Linked DNA regions of Homo sapiens: region 2 is linked to region 1. A link means that fine-mapping ties the variant in region 1 to the expression of a gene that starts in the linked region. Tissue or cell type: whole blood. Region 1 holds a variant in brackets; the other region holds the start of a gene. All regions are shown on one strand. Distances are between the middles of the regions. Region 1 overlaps FRY (FRY microtubule binding protein). Region 2 holds the start of FRY (FRY microtubule binding protein).

Region 1 (5,386 bases):
CATGTGTGACTTGCATTCTAGTAATATCTTCATCCTACTAATGTCACACTTCTGGTGCAGGTGTGGGAAGAGTCAGTTTTAGGTTCAGCCAGGCTTGGGGTTTAACCAGCTGAGTAAGACAGGGGTAGGGCATCCCTTGTGAATGTCAGCAAGAGAGGGATTATAATGACCCATGGAATTTAAACATGCTCCAAAGAAGAGTAAAGACCTGTGAGGGCCACAGACTGATATTCATGATGGGAGAATTGTCAGAGGGGTGGGGGCTGGAGTAAAGGGGAACTGGGAAAATTCCTGAGTAGGGGGCCTGAAGGTGGGATTCTGGAGCTGGTTCACTTACTGCTATGGATCAGGTTTTGGTATAGCCAGGAAATTGGGTGGCTAAGGTAGAAAAGAGTGAAAATGCCTGGAGGTAAGAATGTTAACAGGATGAGAGGGAAAAGATTTCATACAGGTTATACACAAGACTCCTGAAGTCCTGGAAACGACATCGGAAGCTGGGGTGAGCAAGAAGCTCTAGTCTCTCCGATGAATAAGGGGCAGGAAGCAGGAGGGCTTTAGGTCACCAGTTCCCAAGCGCGGTTGCAATTCAAAATCATCAGAGGAGCGTTAGAAAGGATTTACGGGATCCGGAGGGGGGCCCAAGCCTCAGAATTTTTAAAAAGCTTCCCCAGTGCTTCTAATGCAGCTGAGGGTCACAGCCACTGCTGTGGATGACAGTGATGGAGTTGGGGAAGGAAGTGGCTAGTACAGCCAGGTGGCAAGAATTTCAAAGTCTCTGGGCTTTTCGAAATAGAGATGAGGAGAGAAGGGTTGGACATAGTAAAGGGGACCGGGAGGAATCTCTTTGTTCTCCTGGCCGAGGAGCTCCTGGAAGTTCGCACCAGGTGGCCCAAGTTCTTGGAATCTGAAAATTGAATACAATATCTATTCAAGTTTGCTGTTAAAAGAAGGATCTGGATTACAGAAGATGGTGACAGAGAAGGAGGCATCTGCCAGGAAACTGATCTGTAAGTGGATGCAGTAAATTCTAGTCACTCACTCACTGTGACCTCAAATAGGAAACAAAGTTACAAAAAGATCAATGACAGATTTGGGTAGAATTACTACACCAACAGCCTACGTGGAAAAACAACTGGGGGTGTGCTTTAGAAGAAAGAGCACTTCGCTATATAGGAAGTTTCTCCTAGTTCAGTGTCTTTCAAAGTGGAGTGGCTGTTACAATGCTGATTTGAGGGATCCTGCGCTGGATTTACCAAACTGGTCTCCAGAGGGGTCAACCTGAGGGATTCTGCATTTTTGACAAATACCCTGGGGTGACTCTTAGGTCTAGAAAGGAGAAAGCAATGTTCCAATCTTGGCAGTGGATTAGAATCATCTGGGGAAACTTAAACAGCACTGGAGTTTGAGCACAGCTTCAGACCAATTACATCAATTAAGACGAAGGCTGAGCGTTGGGGTTTTAAGTCCCTGACATGATTTAATGTGCATCTGAAATTTTGAGCCCATTACCTACACTCTAATTTTTATGAGAGATCCCAGTCCCGGCTGGACAAGACAGGGGAGTATCCTACTTTTTTCTCAGGGGCTTTAAATGCCATATGTGTGTCTTTAGCCCAGACTTTGCTCCTCAACAACAGACTCACACATCCACCTGTTTACTCACCATCTTGTCTTGGATATCAGACATCTCAAAGTTAACATGTCTGAAGAATAAATCTTGGTTTCTATCTCCCAAACATGCATTCCCGCATCTCAGTTAGTGGAAACTCCATTCCTCCAGCTGTTTGGGCTAAACTCTCTCCCATTCCACGTGTCATTGGTAAGCCCTGTCAGCTCTAGCTCTGAACTATTTCCAGAATATGCCCACAACTAATCATATCCCTTGCTAGTACCCTAGCCCAAGCCAGCATCGCCTGGTGACTGCACTGTTGCCACAGCCATCTCTCTAGTCTTCCTGCTTCTACCTCTGCCCATCTGCAGTCTATTCTGCACATAGCAGCCAGAATGATCCTTTAAAAAAATTATTTTTATTGTGGTAAAACATATATAACATAAAATTTACCATTTTAAAGTACACAATTCATTGGCATTAAGT[A/G]CATTCACAATGCTGTATAACCACCACAACGGAACTTTTGTTATAGAGCTTTTCTTCATCGCTATGAAGGAGTAATCCTTTTAAACATAAGTCACAGCATGTCACTACCCTGCCCGCAAACATTCAGTGGCTTCCCATCTTGCTCAGCAAGGGACAAAGTCCTGCCGTGGCCCACAGAGCTTTTGGCTGTCCTCTCTGAACGCTCTCTTCACTCATTTCACCCGGTCATTGGCTTCCTTGCTGTCCCTTTGACAAAGTGACCCTGCTTCTCCTTCAGGGTCTCTGCATGTGTTTTTTCCTTTGCTGGAATGCTCTTTTCCTTGGATATCCATTGTATCCTCACTTCATTCAGATCTCTCCTCAGATATCACCTTATTAGAGTGATAGCTAAGATAGCCCTGTCCACATTACTCACTGTATCCGTTTTGTTCTTCATGGCACTAATCATCACCCAACGTAGACAAGTACATCTTCCTCCACTCAAATGTAGGAGCCTCATGGGAACAGGGACCACATCTGCCTTGATAGCTGCGGTGTCCTCTAAAACAGTGCCTAGCCCAGAGTGGGCATGCAATAAATATTTGCTGAACAAAGAAATATCCTGGGTCATGATAGGTATCCAAATATTAATTGATCTCAAACAAATGCATTGAAAACTTTAAAAACTAGTTTCATTGAGATACAATGAACATACCCTAATACTCACCTATGGACACGAATTTTTTGTTGTTAAGGCAGGCATCAGGAAGCACGTGTAAGCTATTGATGTAAGCAGCCTGGAGGTACGCTTATTCTTTCCAGAATTCTACAGTTCACTGAAAAGATCATTGTTTGTTAGGACTTAGAACCAGAAGAGCCTTGAGACCTAACTCTGGATGTTCACGCATGTGTGTGATGCCTACAATTAATTACAGGCATCTTTATTTCACAGTAACATCGGCACATTTTCTTAACATCTCACCGATGTTAGATGGGTTAGAGGTGGGAATGACATTCACGTGCCTCTAAAAATGTGCAGTGCCTTTTCTAAAACACTATATTTGGAGACTATAATTTTAATCAAGTGATGTCTAAGTTACAGAGCGCCTGTCTGGATTGCTTTATTCTGCAGGTGGATACAAAGTGTATCATGTTTCAGTGCTAGAAAACAGTGAGACACAAGGAGGCATCTTTCTTATCACTGAGGCATCTGTTAAATATCTACCCTTTCCTTTGGTACTTCTACTTCTTTGTATCCCTGGGGAAGGCAATTAACATTAATGCTTCTGTAACAGAGGCACAGAGCAATAGCCGACAAGATTTGACTGGTAGATCTAAAGTTATTGCTGGGCTCTGCTGGCGTGGGGCTGCATCCTACACAATTTTTCCCATCTCCACTTAAAGTAGAGGAGGTGAAGAGATAGAGGAAAAGTAGAAGAAACCTTTCACATTAATACATCTCCTTTTAAAAATAAAATTGAGAAAAACACAGACCACTGCTTCCTATGTTAATATCTTGGATTGTAATGTACTGTTGAAATCCTTTTTTTTTTTCCTTCCCTTTTTAAGAGTAAACCATCACGGTGGTTCTCTGCTGGGTAAGAAGCCATGGTAGAAAACTCAGTTCATGACGAATCTGTTCTTTCTACTGTGGCTCCCAACAAAACTCTCTGAAAGTTGTCTACTGTGGTTAGCCACAGAAACCTTTATTTTATGATATTTTTCAGAGAGATCATGATTCAGTTGTTTCTACAAATCATAGCAAATCATCTTTCAGGCAAGTTGAAAAAAATAAATCATCAGAAAAATATGTTTTCAGCAGTCCAGAAAATTATTAAAATCTAGTAGTTGCATCTGTAGCAACTACTAGGATTTAAAAAAAATCCTAGGTTAGGCTCTCTTCTATAGAATACTCCTAGAATATTACTGCCAATGATTCAGTAGCCATATGCTAGTAAAGCAAGCTATATTTGTTGGTCCATGTAAAATATGAGTAGAAAGACGGCATAAATGAGATTGTTACATGTTTCTCCCTGTGTTCCTGGGGGATAGGTGTTGGTGACAGAATTACAACTCTACTACTTTTTCCTGCTCACTATAGAATTAACTTCCAAATTTGAAGGATGACAACCTAATTATAGGTTATGGAGAATTAGAGCTCTCACTTTTTTCTGATTTTTCTCTTTGGTTGATTACAGAGAATTGGTTGAAGCTCACAGTTTTGATGCCAACTTCCAAAGAGATAATACTTACCTCCAGCTTCACAGGGCCATGCATGGCATGACCCCCACGGGTGCCATTCAGATCATACATGCGAGGGGTGCCCCTTGGGGTTATTACTTTGGCAACCCACATGCAAAACTTCATGTGTGCCCAGGACAAACATTTTCATTAACCAGAAATAAAGTCCATGGTCAACGTGTATTTTGTCTTTTTTTTTTTTTTTAGTCTAAAGAAAGTTCTGAACAGAATATCAATTAAGCTTACATCACAAAAACTTTAAATGTATTTACAGAGTGAATAAGTTACATAGATAAACTCTGAATATGTTTCTGCAGTGCAACAAGTTCACATGCACACATCTAACACTTGACAGCATTAAGTTTAAGGAGAGAACTTAAGAATGGCCCTTTACATATATATTACACATAAAATATGACATCGAAGAAACAAAGTAACAACTCATATTTTACCTTTATGATTCTACTTCTGACTATCCAAACAGATATTAAAATATGCATGCCTGACAGGTGAAAAGACTTGGAATTTATCTTGTGAATAGTTTTCTCTACAAAACGGCAAAGTTAATTAAAATTAACACTCATCCTTCAGCAGTATAAATATGCTCATAAAAGCAACCTTCTAGTAAAAAGCAGCCAAGATCCTTAAAAAGAGTCTATCTGGACCATTTTTGGTGCAAAGAGATCCAGGGCTTTCAGAAACAGTAGCCTAGCAACATAAGAAAGGTACTTCATAGCAGCTCCTTTTAGATACAGTAATTGTATTCAAATTACAGTGTACATTACATTGCAGTCCATTTACAATTCCCTTTTCACATACACAGGCTGTCAGCTTTTGACCATCTTACAGTTTTCAGTGGCCAGCTTCATTTTGCCTGCCCCTTTCTCAGCCCACGAAAGAAAGGAAAAAGAAAAAAGAAAAAAGAAAAGAAAATGGAACAAGACAGGGAAAGAATATACATGTTTGAGAATATAAAATTTTTTGAGTGAAGAAAACATTGCACTTTTGCCAATCTAAAATTGTTTCTAGAAAGGAAGGTACTGTTCAGTGTAGTCGGCTTTGGTATGCAAC
Region 2 (5,386 bases), 270 kb after region 1:
GAGTCTCCATTCAGGTATGTGGGCAGACATCCTCACCTCTCAAACTTGTGAGGCCAGGCATGCGCGTGCAGGTGCATGCAGGTGCAATTAGCCGCTTGCCTCATGGTGCATCCTCTCAGCCAAGGTTACACTGAGTATGTTGAGCCTTAGGGCTTCTGTTTCTACTTTGCCTTCTACACAGACAAATTCCTTTCTCTCTTTGCTGCTCAAAATATGTAAAACTTAGCAATGAGAACTATGCTAGATTGTAAGCAGGTTAGTGTTGTAACAAGCTTAAAGAAGATAAACAAAGTATATTTCCTCTTCCTCTTTCAAGAAAGGACTGAAAAACATTCTCCCCCTCAAAAGAATGCTGGAAAGCCACCAACTTCACTACTCTGAAATAAAAAAATTAATATAGTGGGCAGGGACTGTGTCTTATTCACCTTGTGTAGCCCCACAGCCTGGCACATAGTAGGTATTCAATAAATATTTGCTGAATGAATTGGAAGAATTCAAAATTGTATCACAGATATTCTCAAAGTAGAAATGAACAGTCATTTTGAATCATTTCCTGAAGTATGTATGTGGGGAGAGGAGTTTAGGAAGGGTGGAGAGAATATATACTTTATCTAGAGTGATTTGAAAATAGACAAGGGGAGAGAAATTTTTAAAAGAAATCCCATTGGCCTCAGTATTGTCACAACATAATTTTCTATTTAATGATGCAATGACAAAAATTGATGGAAGAAAACAGTCTGGTCTTGGAATAATCAAATATGTTTAAAAACCACGTACTGATGTCAACTCAAAAGTGAGTTTTTTCAGTTATTGGAAAACTGCTCCATAAAGAACACTGTATGTCAAATTCTTTTCATTAATCAAAGAGCAGATAGACAAAGGAAGATTCATCCTTGAGTGTAAAGTATTATAAAAATAATGAGTCCAAGTTAAATGATTTATAGCTATGACAAGTAAAGAATGCTGTTTGGGCAACAGTATTACTCCCAAATGGCTTCCCACTTGTAGAAAAACAGCTTCAGACAAGCCCCATAGTGTATACAGTGGTGCAAAATGACCTGGAAAAAATGGTTTCTATGGATATCATTTAGAGATGCACATCCCTGAATACCTTAAGGCTGAAGGTACTTTAGCTCTTTTCCTCAAAGCAATTGCAGCACAGGTTCTCCTGCCCAGGTTTTGTTTATATAAGAACAATCTTGGCCACAGGTCATTTGTGTAGGAGACAATTAATCACTAGCTCTTTGAGCACAGGTAGGTTAATCAGTATGCACATAATACAATATTAAAATTTTCACGGGGAAAAAATTTTTTTATTTAAAACAATAAAGCATCAGTAATACCTGCTGATCTTTTATCCAAAGCAAGTACAAAGGCTGTTAGTGAAATAGAGAAGACTTTCTTTTTAAACAGTTCGGAAAATACAAGGCATCATTGATCACCTGAAGGCCTCATTTTAATTTGATTCCAGATCCACGGCAGCTTAGAGGTTGTCTTTTTGAAATAGCGTATTGCTAAAATCCTTATGTAGGTCAGAAATGGAACTTCAGGAGCCATCATATTCTGCTATCCTAATAAATAATTAGGGTCAGAACCTCACTTGTTTATGTTTCAAAAAAGCACAATATTTGGACTATAGCAAACATCAGGATTTTTAAAAATTCAAATATTAAATGGCATTCAGAACATCATCCACATGGAAGAGGGAGAGATGAAATAAATCTGCAGATGCCTCTATATACAAAAAGGATGTCCTAGGTTTTGGACTATTAAATACTTTTCTTTCTTCAGACAATACCCTAAAAAAACAATTACAAAGTACTCTGAAACCCTGCCACACCCCTTTGATTAAATCACACTTCACAAAATATTTAGAGAAAGCCTGAACAAATCAAATAAACATCAAGGCAGGAAATGCAGCCAGGAATGCCTGATCCTGAGCTCCCCCAGAGTCTGAAGGGCTGCCTCACTTGAAAATTTAATCAAACACAATCTACTGTAATTCCATTGCAGCCTTTGCACTTAAGGAAAGCTAGTTCAGTCTCTGACATTTTGATTTTCACAGCAGATGGGAGCAAAAAAAGAAAGAAAGAAAGAAAGAAAAAGAAAGAAAGAAAGAAAGAAAGAGAAAAGAAAAGAAAAGAAAAAAAGAAAAACTTCCGCGGCTCACAAACATATGTGTCCAGTTGAGATTTTCTGTCTCCAGCCTTATGCAACATCCAGCAAACAAACAAACAAAAAGGTTATTTTCTATTACTCACTATTACTCCAGGATTTCAGTAAATATTTGATACTGATCTCAAAGAAGCCCGAATCCTGCTGGCTGGCCATGTCTGCGGCATACAAAGAGGCTGGGAGGACGGGCAGCGGCCGGGAGCAGGTACCGGGCGTGATGCGCCTGTCACAGGTTGTGATGTCAGCGCGGGGTCAGGCGCCCAGAGGCAGCTCTGCGGATCCACCTCCGGCTCCGGCCGGGAGTGCTCATCTAAAGGACACGGCGGAGCAGAGAGAGATGCTCGGCCGCTCCTCCTCCTCCGGGTCCAGGACTTGCTTCTTATTTGCTGGACGCTGATCTCCCTGCAGCCCTCGGAGGCGGCGGCCGCGCTGCTTTCATTTCGGGGCTGTCATCACCAGAAACGCCGGCTGCCGGCCGCCCACCAGCTCGGCTCCAGCCAGGTACGCAACCGAGGAAGACCCCACCTGAACTGGGATCGGCTTTCTTCTGGGAGGGAGGGTTTCTAGGCCGGCCTCCCTGACGCGGTGCAGGCAGCCTCCGGCCCACACGGCCGCCGCGGGGCTAAGGGATGGGCCGGGAGCGCCGCCCCCTGCCCCTGCCCACTGTCTCAACCTGAGCCGCGGCTCAGTCTCCGCCTAGGCTGCGGGAGGAATTTCCCAGCTTCTGCGGATCCTCTCTCTTCAGCAAGGCTTCCCGTGAGCGGCCCGGGTGTGCTCTGGCTGCTGCTTCCCCTTGTGTCTGTCCCTGAAATAAACACAACTGCAGCACGCTGCGGTAAGCAAAGCTGCAGCCTTGCATCTGGTTGCAGCGACGTTTTGAAAAACCCCATCCGTCAGCCTCGTTGCAGTAAAGAGACTCAACAAGAGGACGCTTGTCTGGGCTTTTTCTTCCCTGCCTTCCACACGCATGGTGGTATCTGCATTTTTACTTTTCCCTCCCAGAAATGCAGTCTTTTCAAGGGGCATCGGAGCCCGAACGTGTGCACTCTAAGGGGACAGTACACACTGCTTAGTTGGCTTGTTTTTGTAATGTCACACACTCCACAATGGATCTTATTCTCAAACCTCTCATTTCTAAGACTCACTAAGCCCAGTGAAGCTTATTTTATTTGTATGAAAAGGATAAGAAGCAAAAGCATTAGATTCCTTGCTCTACAATGGCTCTTGATTTCATGAATTCTTGATATCAGGTGTCCTGATTTTGGTTAGCTTTGTTTCACATTATCATTTAGCTTGACCAGGGGATTAAATAAGAGTATTATATTTTAATAATGACAGGTTATGTTGGAAGAGGTGGGATTTGGCCAACTATCTCATAAACCACAGGATCCTTCCCAAGTCCCAGTACATTCATGATTAATGTTGTCTAAAAAACAGAAAAAAGTAATAAACCATGTTAATAAGTATTTAACATAGCAAATGTTGGGCTAACTCCCCAAATCAACACACAAACAGGACTTCCTAGATTAACAGTTCATTTTAAAAATGGAAGGGAAAGACTACAATGTACTTTTATTGTTAGGACAAAGAATTTTTAAAATTCAACACTAAATAAAACTTCTAGAACTATGTTCTGAAAGGCCCTAAGATACTTCATCAATACAATTAGTTTTTCAAACTCATTACACTTACCCAAATGGCAAGCACTCAATCACTCAGATTTCCAACTCCACTTATACACTTTATTCTGATGAAATCTCTCACCAGATTGACTTCTTTTTAATTCATGTGCATACTAGAGTTGCTGAACTGATTTTATCACTTGTACTTTGAATGTATGGATTCTAGGTAAAATAAGACCCAAAGGTTTTACCTTGAAACAATTATTATATCTGAAAATAAATTTCATACCTACGCCCATCTGATGCTTGCCAAGACTCAGATGGCAGTGAATGAACAGGTAGGCTGCACAGTGCCCTGCGATTAACGATGGCATGGGCTCTCAAGGCAGGGCCCCATGTTCGCTCCTGGCACCAGCCCTTACTAGCTTTGAGCCCCAAAGTAAGCTATTAACTTTGCTAAGCCTTCGTTTCCTCATCTGTAAAATGGGGTTGTACCTTCTTCCTATAGTTGTTGGAAACAATAAATAACACTATGTATGAAAGGGGCTCAGCATAGTATCTTGCCCATAGTTAACACTTCATTAAATTTTAGCTACATTGATTTTTTTTTTTTTTTTTTTTTTGAGACAATCTCACTCTGTCGCCTGGGCTGGAATGCAGTGGTGCAATCTTGGCTCACTGCAACCTCTGCCTCCCGGGTTCAAGCGATTCTCCTGCCTCAGCCTTCTGAGTAGCTGGGGTGACAGGCATGCGCCACCATGCCCGGCTAATTTTTGTATTTTTAGTAGAAATAGGGTTTCACAGTGTTGGCTGGGGTGATCTTGAACTCCTGACCTCAGGTGATCCACCTGCCTTGGTCTCCCAAAGTACAGACATGAGCCACTGCGCCTGGCCCATTCATTCTTATTATGAATCCTTAGTGACTCTAGAATAGAACTTTTTTTTAAAAAGCTAAATACTTTTTTTTCTTTACTCTTTATGTGGTTTAAAAGATATATTACTTTTGAACACCAGTGGTAACTATTTGGGGAGAGCAAGTTGGAGACATTTAAAATCAGTTGCAATAAGCAAACATGCTATTGTATATTGTTACTCAAATATATAGAGATTCTCTCTGTTGACTTTATTTTAAAAAATTTTTAACTGGCTTTTTAAAGTTTTCAATACTTAAATACATAAGTTTTCAGTATTTAACTACTATAAACATACTAACTTGCTGAGAATGCCACTCATATATATTTCAAGGGAAACGGTCATAAAAATGTAAATGCTACTTAGAAAATAATGTTTTCAATGCCATCTAGCTTTCACTGTGAAGAGTGAATCAGCATCTAAGAGCCCAGTTTCTGTCTCTTAGAACCTGAAATCTTGTCCAGTGTATGCTTTTTCTTCATTCGAGTACCTTTAAAGAGGACATATATTGTAAAAGAACAGAAAAGGGCTTTTGTTTTGTTGAAAGGCCTGCAAATCAAATAGAATGACACCCGCTGCAAGCTGAGTTGAAACATTTATCCTTTTGTCTTCTCTCTCTCTGGGGGGGCATAAAAAAATTAGTCAGAAGAGGCACCTGGACAGAGGTACTTTAAAAT

What was found. PIP is the estimated chance that this variant, and not a neighbour inherited with it, causes the effect. A credible set is the group of variants that fine-mapping cannot tell apart.
Region 2: FRY starts here. The variant in region 1 is the best candidate, but not a certain one, in a credible set for the expression of FRY in whole blood (TOPMed, PIP 0.83).

What each region holds. Positions count from the first base shown.
Region 1 is chr13:32,295,748-32,301,133 of GRCh38, reverse strand. It overlaps FRY (FRY microtubule binding protein), which reads right to left. Exons shown (of 61, transcript NM_023037.3): 61 at 2,009-5,386. Among named protein-coding and RNA genes, the nearest start is that of ZAR1L, 17 kb to the left of the region's middle. The variant A/G (reference allele first, on the strand shown) is at 2,096.
Region 2 is chr13:32,028,741-32,034,126 of GRCh38, reverse strand. It overlaps FRY (FRY microtubule binding protein), which reads right to left and starts at 2,353. Exons shown (of 61, transcript NM_023037.3): 1 at 2,262-2,353. The coding sequence starts at 2,331. It overlaps FRY-AS1 (FRY antisense RNA 1), which reads left to right and starts at 2,488. Exons shown (of 4, transcript NR_103839.1): 1 at 2,488-2,676.